2 linked regions of the Homo sapiens genome follow. The protein of the gene in region 1 purifies or fractionates together with the protein of each later gene. This does not show direct contact. Each region holds a gene or a part of one and is shown in the gene's direction. Other genes may lie near its edges.

Region 1 (7,024 bases):
CTTGAGGGCTGTGGGAGGAAGGAGGGGAGGGTGTTAGAGACCAAACGGGAGCCCTGAGGAGGCAATTCCTGAAGGCAGGTCCTCCCATGCCTCTGCCTGGGGAGGACAGAAGAGATTCCAGGGGTCTTCTCCCGAGTCCCTGGTAGGCCAGGAGTAATCCTGGGATCTGCCAAAAGGAAGTCTCTTCCAGGATGCCCTGGAAGCAGTCAAGAGGAAGTTGGGGGCAATGCCTGGGGAAGGAGTTCTTATGATTCCCTGAGGGGTCTTGAGTGGTCCCAGGGGTCTTCTACTGTGATTCCCTGGGAGATTCAGAGCAGTCCTGAGCGGCGGTCCCCAGGCTTTTTGGCATCAGGGACCAGTTTTGTGGAAGGGGGTGGGGATGGTGTGGGGATGATTCAAGTTAATTACATGTATCCTGTGCTTTATTTTTATTATTATTACATTGTAATATATAATGAAATAGTTACGCAGCTCACCATAATGGAGAATCAGTGGGAGCCCTGAGCTTGTTTTCCTGCAACTGGATGCTCCCATCTGGGGGTGATGAGAGACAGTGACAGATCATCAGGCATTAGGCATCAGGCATCATAAACAGCACGCAGCCTAGATCATCAGGCATCATAAACAGCACGCAGCCTAGATCCCTCGCATGTGAAGTTCACAATAGGGTTCATGCTCCTAAGAGAGTCTAATGCCCCAGCTGATCTGACAGGAGGTGGAGCTCAGGCGGGGGTGCTTGCTTGCCCGCTGGTTCCTAACAGGCCACGGACTGGTACCTGTCTGTGTCCCAGGGGCTGGGGACCCCTGGTCTTGAGGATCTTCCTCTCTGATTCCCTGAAGGGAGCAGGAATATCCCTGGGAGTTTGCTTGTGGGAGAGGGCTCCCATGATTCCCCCAGGGATCTGGAATATTCCTGGGGATTCTCTCTAGAGTCCCTGGTAGGTCAGGGGTAACCCTGGGGCTTTGCCTTTAGGAAGCCTCTCCCGTGGTGCCTTGGGGCATTAGAGTCAAAAGGAATTCTAGGGTCTGTCCGAAAGAAGGTGCTCCCATGACTCCTTGGGGGCTGTGCCCACAGGAAGTCCCACCAGGAATGCACCGGAAAAATAGGAGGGCGAGGCCGGCCCCGCCAAGTGCGCCGCCACAAGACATGCCCCAGCCCTCGGGAAATCAGCAAGGTCATGGCTTCCATGAACCTGGGCCTGCTGAGTGAGGGCGGCTGCAGCGAAGATGAGCTGCTGGAGAAATGCATCCAGTCCTTCGGTAAGTGTCCTCTCCCCAGCAGCCTCCCTGGCCCTAACCTCGGGCTCAGCACTCGCTTCTCTCCACCTCAGTTTTTGGAGGTAAAATGAGAACAGGGCTGGGTGGAATGAAACTCAATCACTACATTAGAGATAACAGAAACACCTGCATTTCTTCTTTCCTGAAATGGAAATATATACATTTATATATATATATAATATATGTGTATATTATATATATTTATATAAATCTTTTTTCTTTTCTTTTCTTTTTCTTTTGAGACAGAGTCTCGCTCTGTTACCCAGGCTGGAGTGCAGTGGCCTGATCTCAGCTCACTGCAACCCCCACCTCCTGGGTTCAAGAGATTCTCCTGCCTCAGCTTCCCGAGTAGCTAGGATTACAGGCACATGCCACCAGGCCCAGCTAATTTTTGTGTTTTTAGTAGAAACGGTGTTTCACCATGTTGGCCAGACTTGTCCCGAACTCCTGGCCTCATATGATCCGCCCGATTCAGCCTCCCAAAGTGCTGGGATTACAGGTGTGAGCCACTGTGCCCGGCCAGTCTGGTGCTATTTCAATCTTCAGCAAGACTTGCCAGGGGTGATGCTGCCCCATGCACAATACAGATAAGGAAACTGAGGCACAGGAGGTTAGGTTGCCTGTCCAAGGTCATGCTGGGGATCACCGTTAGAGCTGGTCTTTGAACCAGGTGGTCCGGCAGGATCTGGAGCTACGCTCTGCATTGCTTGAGGGCCATTCTGTCACAGAGTACCCCTCCTTCCACCCCAGATTCAGCTGGCAGCCTGTGCCACGAGGACCACATGCTCAACATGGTGCTGGCCATGCACAGCTGGGTGCTGCCGTCCGCCGACCTGGCTGCCCGCCTGCTGACCTCATATCCTCCAGGACTGTGAGCTATGGGTGGAGGGCAGAGGGCAGAGTCGTGAGAACCTGGGCAATGGGAATGGGGAGCAGGCAGGTCATGGATCCTGGAAAACAGAGCCTTGACCAGAACTCAAATACCAGAAGGCCACAGGGGACACCCAGGAGCTGAGACGGCTGCAGATCTGTCACCTGGTCAGGTAGGGCTGGGCCGAGATCCCCACTCTCAGGACCCACGACTTCCATCCTGCTTCCCCCTCAAAAAACATTCCTCAGAGAATCCCCAGGCCAGTTCCCACAGACCCAACCAGCCCCACAGGCCAAAATCCCACTTCTGAGACACCTGTAGCTTGGTTCCTAAGACCCTCTTAGTTCCGTTCCTTAGAACCCCCACTTCCTAGAGACCCCCCTCACCAACCAGATCCCATAGACCCTCCTAGCTGGTGCCCAGAGACCTCCAACTCTGATCCCCAAAATCTCTACCTCCCACAGACCCCAGCCTAGCCCATAAGACCCCCTCATTCTGTCCCTCCAAAAATTTCACCCCCGGAAGCCCCCAGTCTAGTTCCTAGGACGCTCCACGATCTTGCTTCCCAATAATCCCACTTCCAAGTGACTCCCCGGTCTGTTTCCCACAGATCCCCCCAGTCTCTGTTAAGAGACCCCCATCCTACTCCAGAGATTCTCCAAGCCTGGTGCCCCTCCAAACCCCAACCCTCCAGGGACCCCCACACACATTTAGAGACCCCCTAGCTCAGCACCTAGAAATTCCTCAGCCCAAAATACCCCTTGTAGAGACCTTCGCCACCCCCGGCCTCATCTCACCATCTCCAAACCACTCTCAGGTACTGGCTGATGCGACACCCTGAGGTGATGCACCAGGATCCCCAGCTAGAAGAAGTCATAGGTCGTTTCTGGGCCACCGTGGCCCGGGAGGGCAACTCAGCCCAGAGAAGACTGGGAGACTCTTCTGACCTGTGAGTCAGCCCTGTGCTCCCCTCTTCCCTGCCCCATCGCCATTCTGCCATCTCCCTCTATATCCCCAAGCCCTCAACTGTGAGCCACTCCAATACCCTGCCCCTCTTGGCCCCCAGCCTGAGCCCTGGTGGCCCTGGCCCCCCACTCCCAATGAGCAGCCCAGGCCTGGGCAAAAAGCGCAAAGTGTCCTTGCTTTTCGACCACTTGGAGACGGGGGAGCTGGCTCAGCACCTCACCTACCTGGAGTTCCGGTCCTTCCAGGCTATCACGGTGAGGACCCCCTCCCATCCCCGTCCCAAGCAGGGGAGACACTGGGGTAGGGGAGGGATTGGCTGGGGGAAGGTAGGACTGAGAGGACACCTGCATGGTCATTCGGCAGAGATCTCAAAGTCTTAAACTCAAACCTGTATGCTAGAAGGTCCAGGAAAATGAGTTAAAGAGGCCAAGGCAGGCAGATCGCCTGAGGTCAGGAGTTTGAGACCAGCCTGGCCAACATGGTGAAACCCCATCTCTACTAAAAATACAAAAATTATCCAGGTGTGGTGGTGCATGCCTGTAATCCCAGCTACTTGGGAGGGTGAGGCAGGAGAATCACTTGAACCTCAGGAGGCGGAGATTACAGTGAGCTGAGATCACACCACTGCACTCCAGCCTGGGCGACAGAGCGAGATTCTGTCTCGAAAAACAACAACAACAAAAAAGTAAAATAAATAAATAAAAGGCTTATTGCAGCGACTGGCACTTAGTAAGTGCTCAAAATATTTTATCATTTATTCAACAAGCATTTAAATTCATGGTGCCTCAGTTTCCTCATCTGTAAAAAGGGGATATGCACAGTTCCTGCCTTGCAGGAACAGTGCCTGGTCCAGGGTAAATGCTATCTGCTTGAACCATTTGAAATTGTCATATATTACCTACCCAAGGATCAGTTTCATGTGCTTCAACATATATATGCATTAGCTTTTGCCATCTGGACATCATCATTTCAAGGGAAGGTGGGGATCTGTTTCCTTCATGTGAAACTGTCCCGATTGTATGTGTGTGTTGTGTGTGTGAGTGTGTATGCAAATATACTCAGTGTAGTGGATGTGGGTATGAAATGAACACTCCTTGGGCAGAACAGATAGAGGTTGATTTCAATTCATCTTCCCCAGCCTTCCCTTTGCTTACTGTATACCAGTCAGGTGTACAGTTAAGAGCATATAGACGCCCACCCTGACTCACACCTGTGTGACCCTGGGCAAATTACCTATCCTCTATGTGCCTCAACTGTCTCACCTCTAAAATGGAATGATACTCACCTCATAGAGTTATGAGGATTAAATTATTTAATATGATTACTTGTCAAATATAGTGCCTGGCTATATTGAAACATGCCTCCTCAGATGGGAGAGGAGCATGGTGACGTTAAGGACATGTAGCAGCCTGAGGGTTGGGGGACAGATGACAAAGGTCACTCCGGCTAGACCAGGCTAGGACATCAGAGATCGTGACTGCTAGTTGGATGCCATGGAAGGGCAGGGCCTGAGCGCCACGGCCCACCTTGACACCCACCTCGCTCCCAGCCCCAGGACCTGCGGAGCTACGTTTTGCAGGGCTCAGTACGAGGCTGCCCGGCCCTGGAGGGCTCCGTAGGTCTCAGCAACAGCGTGTCCCGCTGGGTGCAGGTGATGGTGCTGAGCCGTCCCGGGCCCCTACAGCGTGCACAGGTGCTGGACAAGTTCATTCACGTGGCACAGGTGAGGCCCGCCCCTTGGGGCTGCGAACTCCACTGCACGCAGCCACCTGGTCCTTCCCCTTCCAGACCCTCGACCCCACAGGGTCATCCCGGCGGTGACGTCACGCATCTCCCGGCCCCGCCCCCGAGGCCACAGCCTGGGCATTCCAACCAAGGACCGTAACTTCTTCTTTGGCCTTGATGTCACCGCGTCGCACCCACCGTGGCCCCACCCCTTGGCCCTAGACGTGACAGGCTCCCAAGCCCTATGCCCGAATATTCTATCCCCAGGTCAATGAGAGTGTCTCTTCCATGCCCCCACCTTTGTGGGGCATGGAAGCCCGAGGCTTCAATCCCCAGTCCCCAGGCCCCAGCGGTCGCTTCGGGATTGTGCATCGCTCCCCATTGCGTCCGGGCTCTCCCCGCCCCGCCCCATTGTGTTACGCCCTTCTCTTCCCCTCCCTTCCCCCTCCTTTCCGGACACCTTCTCGCCCTTCTGGGGAAAAGGGAAGCCCTACGGCCCCGCTGTGGCCGCGCCCCCTTGCGTATTTCCACGCAGACCACGCCCTTCCTCTGGTGTCTTCCCTGGCTTGCTTACTCCTGCAGGGCCCCTGAGACCTGGGGGTCTCGACGTCCGCCTGGGGTGTCCTTAGTCTGAGCATTTTCCATTCCTCCCTGGCCCCACTCTCTCCACAGCAACCTCTGCCGAAATTTGTCAAAAGGAGGGCAAGGGAATTCCCCAGCTGCCCTGGTGGCCCCACACCTGTCTAGCATCTGTCTGACTCCTCCATATCTCTCTGGCCCTATTCACCTCTGCCTGGCTCCCAGCTCCTGCCCAGAGCCTGCACCTTCTTGCCTCCCCGCACCTGTGTGACTCTCAGAGCAGTCAGACCCCCAGATGGCTGACACCCTGACATGTCTGAAGCCTCCTCCACCTGACACACACCTGTCTATTCCCCAAATCCGCCCAACTTCTCGTACTTCCTGTCTCCCCAGATTTTCTAACCTCGTATCAGTCAATCACTTGCTTGACCCTCCCGGCTCAGATAGCCATCTGACACCCCTGTGAGGCCCACACATGGCATGTCCCACTCTTGCCGCACACACCCGCCTTCTCTCACCTGTCTGATCCCCACATTGGTCCACACATGCCTGGGACCCCACCTCAACTGGGATGCTGTCATCTGAACTCCTGACTTGCCCTCCCTCCCGTGACGGCCCTGTGTGCATGCTTCTCTTCCTAGAGGCTCCACCAGCTGCAGAATTTCAACACGCTGATGGCAGTCACAGGGGGCCTGTGTCACAGTGCCATCTCCAGACTCAAGGACTCCCATGCCCACCTGAGCCCTGACAGCACCAAGGTGAATCCCACTACCCTCCCCAAAGCTCCAAGTGGTCAGCTGTCTTGAGCCCCCACACCTAATTCCCCAAGCCCTGTCCATTCCTGCCCAGGGGTCCTGGTACCACATGAAGTCCTTGCTCCTCCAAATCCCAGACCCCCAGGCTCTGCCAGCATTCCTCCTCCCTGTCATCCATCCACTCATGGTGCTGATCCCTCTCTGCTTTCAGTGTGTCTGGTCCGGAGCTGGACTGTGAGGGAGACAGATGGGAGACAGGCTAGCAGAGAACTTTGCAGTCCCCATGGGGAGGACTGGCTGAGGTCAGAAAGTGGCAGGAAATTAAGCCGAAGATGCCCTGGGAAGATCCTATAGCGCCTTGTAAGATGGGCTAAGCTAGGGAAGTTTTGAGAGTGATGACACACCCTTGATAAAATCTGGGTTTTTAAGAAATAATTATAGGCTGGGTACAGTGTGGCTCACACTTGTAATCCCAGCGTTTTGGGAGGCCAAGATTGGAGGATCACTTTAGCCCAGGTGTTTCAGACCAGCCTGGGCAACATAGCGAGACCCCATCTCCAGAAATTTTTTTTTTTTTTTTTTTTTTTTTTTGAGACAGAGTCTCGCTCTTGTCGCCCAGGCTGGAGTGCAGTGGTGCAATCTCGGCTCACTGCAACCTCTGCCTCCCGGATTCAGGTAATTCTCCTGCCCCAGCCTCCCGAATAGCTGGGATTACAGGGGTGCACCACCATGCCCTGCTAATTTTGTATTTTTAGTAGAGACAGGGTTTTACCATGTTGGCCAGGCTGGTCTCAAACTCCTGACCTAAGGCGATCCACCCACCTTGGCCTCCAAAAGTGCTGGGATTACA
Region 2 (7,782 bases), on another chromosome or scaffold:
TTATGACCCAGAAATTCCACACCTTGATACAACCTAGGGAATTCATGTACATTTGCTGACATAAAGGAGACATGAGGAAGGAAGCAGAGATGATGTGATTGCTGGAAGGAGGACATAAGCCAAAGAATGAAAGCAGCCTCCACAAGCAGGAAATAGCAGGGAAATACATCTATTCCTAAGAACCCCTAGCAGGAACTAACCTTGCCCAAGATTCACTGTGGACTTCAGACCTCCAGAACAGTAAGATAATAAATTTGTGTTGTTTTAAGTCACTAAGTTTGTGATAACTTACTTACAACAACAAATACAGAAAGTTTGTAGTTTACAACAACAAACTAATACAGAAAGCAGAATTGTTTATAAAAACCTATCCTATGCGAAAACATAATCATTATCAATTGCAAAAAAAAATCAAAACAAATTCAAAAAATGCAAATTACGTGAATTGTGACACGTATGACAGAGGCTGTTTTCTCTCATATACAAAAGTACATGAAAGAACCAGTATTAAAGACATCAGCAGCCCAGTGGAAAACCAGGAAAAAGGAAATAAATATTTCAAATAAAAAGAAATATAAATGGCCAGTATCTCTCCCCGGCCCCTGGCCCACCCCATGAAGAGATGCTAATCTTATTCACACTAGAAAAATGTTTTTGACTGGGTGCCATGGCTCACGCCTGTAATCCCAGCACTTTGGGAGGCAGAGGCAGGCAGATCACTTGAAGTCAGGAGTTCAAGACCAGCCTGACCAACATGGTGAAACCACGTCTTTACTAAAAATACAAAAAATTAGCCAGATGTGGTGGCGGGCACCTGTAATCCCAGCTACTCAAGAGGCTGAGGCAGAATCGCTTGAACCCAGGAGGTGGAGGTTGCAGTGAGCTGAGATTGTGCCACTGCACTCTAGCCTGAGTGACAGAGGGAGACTCTGTCTCAAAAAAAGAAAAAAGAAAAATGTTCTTTTTTACCTGGTGCCATTTCTCCCTGGGCCACCCATAGGGCCACGTGATTACCCTGATTCAATAATTCTTCAACTTCAGCCTGCCTCCCGAGAATTACCTAAAGAGTATGTTAAGAATGAATAATTCTAGATCTCATCCCCAAAGCTTCTGATTCACTAAATTTGGGGCCAGGGAACCTGCATTTTCTACATAATGGCCTAAGAAATATATTTCAAAAAACACTGCCTACCTTTTGACCTTCCTATTGCTGGATTTCTTCCTCAGACATCCTGAGCTGACCAGATTCCATAGTCGAGGTTGCCAGATATATAACTAACAGCATCAAAGGTTAACCATGTACATGATACAACTTTGTCATAAGAGGGACACTGCCAGTGTCACTGAAGAAACCAGAGTGACATCTAAATAATTATCACACTGTAGAATGGTTGCCACTGTAGTCATCGGGAGGCAGGAGGCAAACTAAGATGATATTTCCTAGATAAGTATGTAGCAAGTATGCAATAAGTATGTAAGTAATACGCTTTATTTAACATACAGCTAGAAGCCACGCTCTTCTGTCTCCACTTATTTGGAATACATCCTATACCTGTGAATTCACAGAGATAATCAACAAGGCATCTCTGTCAGGATGTAAGCATGATTTTAGGGTGTAAACTAACATCATCTTTATGGAAATAACATAACTCTTTACGAAACTGATGTTTAATCTCTATGATTTCTAACACCCACTAAATAACCTGGTTGGCCGGCCCCTTGTTGCCATACATAAGTTGCCTTTAATGAGGGGACAGGATGTTTATCTTCAGTGTGGTAGGTGAACAGACATGTGTTCACAGCAATGACTCTAGGTCAAAACCCTGACAAGCCTTGTTTACCTTTTGTCCCCGCCTCCCCAGGCCCAGGCAGATGAAAACCTTTTGCTTGCGTCAGCTCTGGAAACAACTTGTGCTGCATTTGACCACCATACTTTAGGACCATAATTATTTTTTAAATTTCCTTCCCCCTAACTCTTGCTTTCAAGAAATAGAATTGTCCTTGGATATTTGAATAATATCCAGTAGTAACCCTAGACTAGAATAATTTGATGGAAAAGTTTGCCCTAATGTCATTTCCACAATATCTTTGTCTGTATAAATTACATTTCTGTTTTTCAAAGAGGACTTGTATTGGCATGTATTGAATTCCTTGCCTTTTGTGGCATTGATTTGAAAAGTACAGGTGTTAAAGCTCTCACTGTGTTCTACACAGATGTGATGTGGAGAATAAAGGTGTCTTGCTACTTTATACAATATTATAGAAGCATAAGTACAATAATTAAATATCAGTAGCATCCCTAAAAGCCAATGTATGGTTTCATCTGAGCAAATGAAATGTCACTGGTTTGACATCAAAAATAAATACTATAAAAAACTTGCTAAAAATTCTGCTCATAGAACCAACAGTTCAGTAAACTCTAAAGTATGGGAAAGTCTTTTAAAGCTAATAGTGTTTAACCATCCACTATTTTGCCTTCACATACGTAGCTAATAATGAAAAGTGGCTTGGTATTTATATAAACTGACTATGAATGAGGAGATGGAACTCTTGCCTATCTTTGACCCTAATAAACCATACAGCCTCCCTAGACTATCACTATCACATGGGTAGGAGAGAGGCAAGATAGGAGAGATTGGATTATATGATCTCTGTGGTATCTTTAAGCATTAATGTTTTATGCTCTGTTTCTACAATGACTGATACTCTTCAAGAGAAACGGAAGTAGCTACTCTTTATCTACACAAGCTCAGAACCATAACCAAGTTTTGTCTTTGGGAATTCCACTGTAAAATCATCCATCCCCTGTGGGAAACAGTAGCTCACACCTGTAATCTCAGTACTTTAGGAGACCAAGGCAGGAGGATCACTTAAGCCCACGAGTTTGAGACCAGCCTGGACAATATAGCAGGACCTTGTCTCTACAAAATATTTTTAAAATTAACCAAGTGTGGTGACATGCACCTGTAAACCCAAGTACTTGAGAGGCTGAGGTGGGAGGATCACTTGAACTCAGGAGGCAGAGGTTGCCGTGAGCTGCACTCAGACCACTACTGCACTCCAGCCTGAGAAGCAGAGCAAGACTCTGTCTCCAAAAAAAACTTTAAAGCAAAAGATCATTCCCACAAATCTCCAAGGAGTAAACAGAAATGAAATGATGGGGCTTCAGGTAGTTCCTCCTTAGTTACTGAAGAATCTTTTAAATATGTTCATAATTATAATCTGGATTCAAATTCTGGATACCATTGAAATCAGGAGTTTCAAATGGAGAAAGCTAGAGGTACCCACATAAATGATCTAGTACCTATTTCTATTGCTTCCTGTTTCTTTTCTTTAAAACTCATCCTATAAATAGCATTCAAGTAGATAGAAAATCTTATATTTAGAAGAAAATATAAGAAAAATCTTATATGTAGAAGAAATCATCTATAGTGTAAACAAAAGATAGAGACCTTTGTGAAATATCTCCTTCAAACACAACAATAGAGAAGAATGTTGTTTTTCCCTTGTAAAAAGCAATGTCACTTAAAGACCTGGAGTTGTTTCATTAATTCTCTTAGGCAAATTAAATTATCTAATTCAACATGACATGAAATAATGCAAAAGTAAATTACTTTATCTGGCTTCCAAAAATACTAAAACTACTTTTCTCAAGAAACTAAGCAATACTTAGAATACATTCTATTACCAGGGTCAACCTTGTTTCTGAATTACAGTGATGGGATAGTGAAGACAGGAGGCAGTCTCCCTTTGAAATTCTCCAACCAACATGTATTATCTATCAATCAGAGAACAGTTAACTGCATTTTCTTTTAAGTTTATTGATGTTGCTGCCAGCCTGCAATGTTTGCATCAGGACACTCTATACCCTGTTTCAAACCCATACTAACAAAGGAAAAGGGAGACACGAAAAAGGGAAATAATATTCAAAAATATCCAGATCCCACTCTGGGCTTTTTTTCATTAAATTCTCACGTTTCCAACTTCAGTTTCTCCTTAATAAATATTTGTGGTGGTGTAAAATGTGTTCCTCACCCACATTATGTACTTTTTATCAGTGGTAATACTATGAGAAGTGAGAATGTTGTATTGTAGTTACTTTAAAATGATTTTGTAAATATCATATTGTAGAGGTTTGACTGAATAATCAAGAAAGAAAATGCCAAAGTATGGAAACAAACATACTGGTACTAGTTAAATCAGAGTTCCTTCATCTTAACTTTGTTATTTCAGAAAATCTTTAAAATTGAGAGTGCGGTTCAACCACAAGACATTTTAAAGAGAGAAGCAGGACTCAACTGAATTGAAATGAGCGTCATTATTCTATCTTTCTTCCTATACCATACTTGAGTCCTGATGACTTTCAACAATGGCCTCTGCTAAAAGTATCATTCCTTGAAGTGGGTTCTGCAGTGGACATGTGTGTGTATGTGTTGTCAGTATATGTAATTTTGCTTTTACAATGTTGGCAGTAAGAAGAAGCCTTCTAATTTTATTCAGCATGATGATAGGCCCTAGCATTTTAATTATTTTTTATGTTGTGAGTAATTTATTATTCACTGGCTATCTTCCCTGTAAATCTTGTCCTCGCTCTGTAAGGTTTTTCTTTGGTGTCCAACAAAGGGTTTCATTGCAATAAGAATCAAGGTGTGTCTAAATTCTTACCCAGAGCCCAAACAATGCCAGTCTTCCAGACCAGCCTGGGAGTTTGGGGTGGGGAAACAGTCATTATAGAATATCTTCATCTCTCTGCCCAGAGATCACCACAGTTATCACCCATGCCCTCCTAAAAGGGTGTCTCAAAGCATATCTTTCTGTAGAGCAGAATTCGGAACTGAGAAGACGAGGGCTCAAATTGAATCTCACAGGATTTGCGTGCAAGAGAAACCCAAAGGAATGGATTGGCTCTTCTTCAGAAACATTTGCCTTTTGATCATTCTAATGGTAAGTAGAATTTAAAGAGGTGGGAAGGAAATGCAGCCTCAAGGTCTTGTCTCTGTCAACTGTCGGGCTTTCTACATGGGATTTATTCCATTTTTAATCTCCTTCCTGCAAAGAGAGTTCTAGAAGTCCAGCCTCTGTTAATTTCAAACAACTCTCTCCGCCTTGAGGAACAAAATGCCATAGAGAAGCGGGGTGAGAATCTGGCTGAATTAAATTTATATGCCCTCAGAGACATAATCTACTTCACTTTGAGTGTTAGGACTATTCTAAAATTTTAAATTGGAAATAAAATTCATATTCTATGATCATATAAATAAATCAGATAGATTGCTGTGAAAACTGCCAGTGCAAATGGGTTCTAAATTTGAAGGGAAGTTAATCAAACCCATTTCTTTTCAATAGTTATTTCCCTATGAGTTTCTTTCAAAGTGGAGGAATGATAGCCATGTTGAAATTACATTGCAACTAATGATGACATACTAAAGTCATGAGAACTTTTTCCAGTCAGATATTGCTAAAGAAAAATGAAGCCCAGCCATCAAGACAAAACTTTTCTGGAATTATGAATGCATTCCTACAGACCAGCAAAGAAATATTTAAATGACTTATTTCTTTACAGTAAACATGGCATCTTGGATATTATATTTCTTTCCTCTAACCTTTGGGTGCCCAAGGTGTGACATGATTTCCAGACAGGCAGCATGCATAGCAAATATCCTACCCTAGAAAGAGATAATTCCAACTCCAAAGAAGAACAAAGTTCCAGTTGGCCAATCAACAAACTATTGCCAATTCTGGGAGGGTAAGAGGACAGGATTATTAGGAACTGTACAAATTTTTCAAAGTAAATTAAGACAAATGCATTATAGTTGGCCACACTTCAATCTCCCAGGAGTATCCAGGTTAGCGCTACAACCTAAGCTTAGAAAGTGATTCCCATCCTATTCTTAGGCAAGTGGCAATTATACCAGACTCCTCTGAACATCAGTTGTAAGAGACAGAGAGTAGCTAGGGCTGGGAGAGATGGGAGCACGTCATTGTCCAAGAGGCACAGTGAGAGCTACTCTTCTGGAATTCACATTTCTAAACTTCAAGAGCAGTGCGGGAGCCGAACACTGCCAAAGGGCACACAACCCCAAGCTCAAAAGGGAACGTGACAACAGTGGTAGAATATTGCATCCTCTGAGTTTAGGAGACAGATTATTAAACAATACCATTTTTGAAAAATATTTTTAAACTTAAAAACATAAGACGAAGGGCAATATTCTGTTACAATGATCATTATTTATTTACTAAATAAAATAAATGTTACTAAAAGAAGAGGCAAGAATCGGACTTGGTCTTCAATTGAAATAGTAAGTTATGAGGATATACCTCTTGTTACTCTTCTACCGAGTATATTCATGCTTTGACTCAGATAAACTTTTGGTTTTCTGTAAGGAAAATTGTATGTGTCAAGATTTTAGAGGCCACTTCTGAGCACTAAATCTTGCCTCCCATTGCCTTCTGCACAGGCATGATTTATGATAATATTATTTAATTGAAGAGTTGATTCTTCTCCTTGATCTTGAAAGAGTATTATACTTCAGACTCTCAGGATCTTTTTTTGGTAGTATTTATTTATTTTCCTTGGTAATACTAGCGTTTTTAATACTTAATTCCTCCTACTCCTCATTGATATTGAAGTCTTTGTGTTTGACATTTCACGGTAATTGTGAAAAAGTTCTTTAAGTATTTTTTTTCTTTATGCTTGTCTAAAAGATCCCTTACCATATCAATTAATAGTGTCTGGAATTGGGAGGTAGAGACTTCTGGCATATTTCAAAATTGAAACAAATACAAGAATTGTTTAAGGAGAATCAATGAGATGTTATAGATATTATAGGAAAGTAGACATGCCTACTTCTCTTTAATTTCCTGAACTTGAACTCTGCCCCTTCTTCATTAACTAAATCAAAGACTCTCTGGGGCATCATTGCAGCTTACACTAATGAGGGTGTGGCAGCCTCTCAGAGACTCACAGGTACTTTGTGTCAGCTACATCTCAACCGCAAAGAGCACTGTAAACAAAGTTCTGACTGGCTAACCAGCAAAAGGTACTCAAAACTCTAGATTACAATAGGGCACTGATTTTATCACGAGTCATTTGGCATTTTCTTCCTAAGGATGCTTATCATGTTCTTCTATAAAACAGACAGGGGTGGTGAGGGACATTCAACAGTGAATCGAGATTCAGAAGTCCCGGGTTTGAATTACAGCTCCTCTTCAAAGTGGCTGTGTAACTTTGGCAAAAGCACCCAACTTCTCAGGGCTTCCTTTGACCTCATGTGAGAATGTATGGTTAGACATGATGTTATTAAGTTGCTTCCACTGTAGAAACTGCAATTCTAAAATTATCTCCACTGAATACTTACATAGTAGAAGTTCATTTCTGGCTCATAAATAGTTTTCATAAATTTGGCTGGAGAATCTGAGGATTTAGGCAATTCTATGGATTGTATAAATTTTATAAGGAAGGAATCACTTACGGCAGGACAGTTATTAGCTGGAAGAGGCCTATATTATATCAAGTGGATAAGGTCATAAAAGACAACCATTTATCAGATAAGAATTTTTCTCTATGTGTGATGACCATTCATGCTACATATAAGATGTAAGCACTTCCATTAAATAGTCTAATTCTTGGAAGTTAAAAAGGTAGGTGGCTAAATATAGCTGTTATCTCATTGCAAGTTGAGAGCAGGCATCAAAATTTGAAAACATATTTAAAATTAACTTAGCCACTTATCAATTTAGTTCTCACATGCACTCAAATATGTTATTCTGAAACATGGAACA

The links. The genes of interacting proteins can lie anywhere in the genome.
Region 2: the proteins of RASGRP4 (region 1) and DSG4 purify together in Homo sapiens (affinity purification with mass spectrometry; 2 studies listed by BioGRID and IntAct, with this or other methods). This does not show direct contact.

The regions. Positions count from the first base shown.
Region 1 is NC_000019.10:38,416,205-38,423,228, reverse strand, and holds part of RASGRP4 (RAS guanyl-releasing protein 4), read left to right. Parts: intron 1-1,075; coding exon 1,076-1,260; intron 1,261-2,028; coding exon 2,029-2,134; intron 2,135-2,258; coding exon 2,259-2,321; intron 2,322-2,966; coding exon 2,967-3,098; intron 3,099-3,215; coding exon 3,216-3,369; intron 3,370-4,664; coding exon 4,665-4,838; intron 4,839-6,060; coding exon 6,061-6,177; intron 6,178-7,024.
Region 2 is NC_000018.10:31,372,016-31,379,797, forward strand, and holds the start of DSG4 (desmoglein-4 isoform 2 preproprotein), read left to right. Parts: upstream 1-4,761; 5' UTR 4,762-4,896; coding exon 4,897-4,944; intron 4,945-7,782.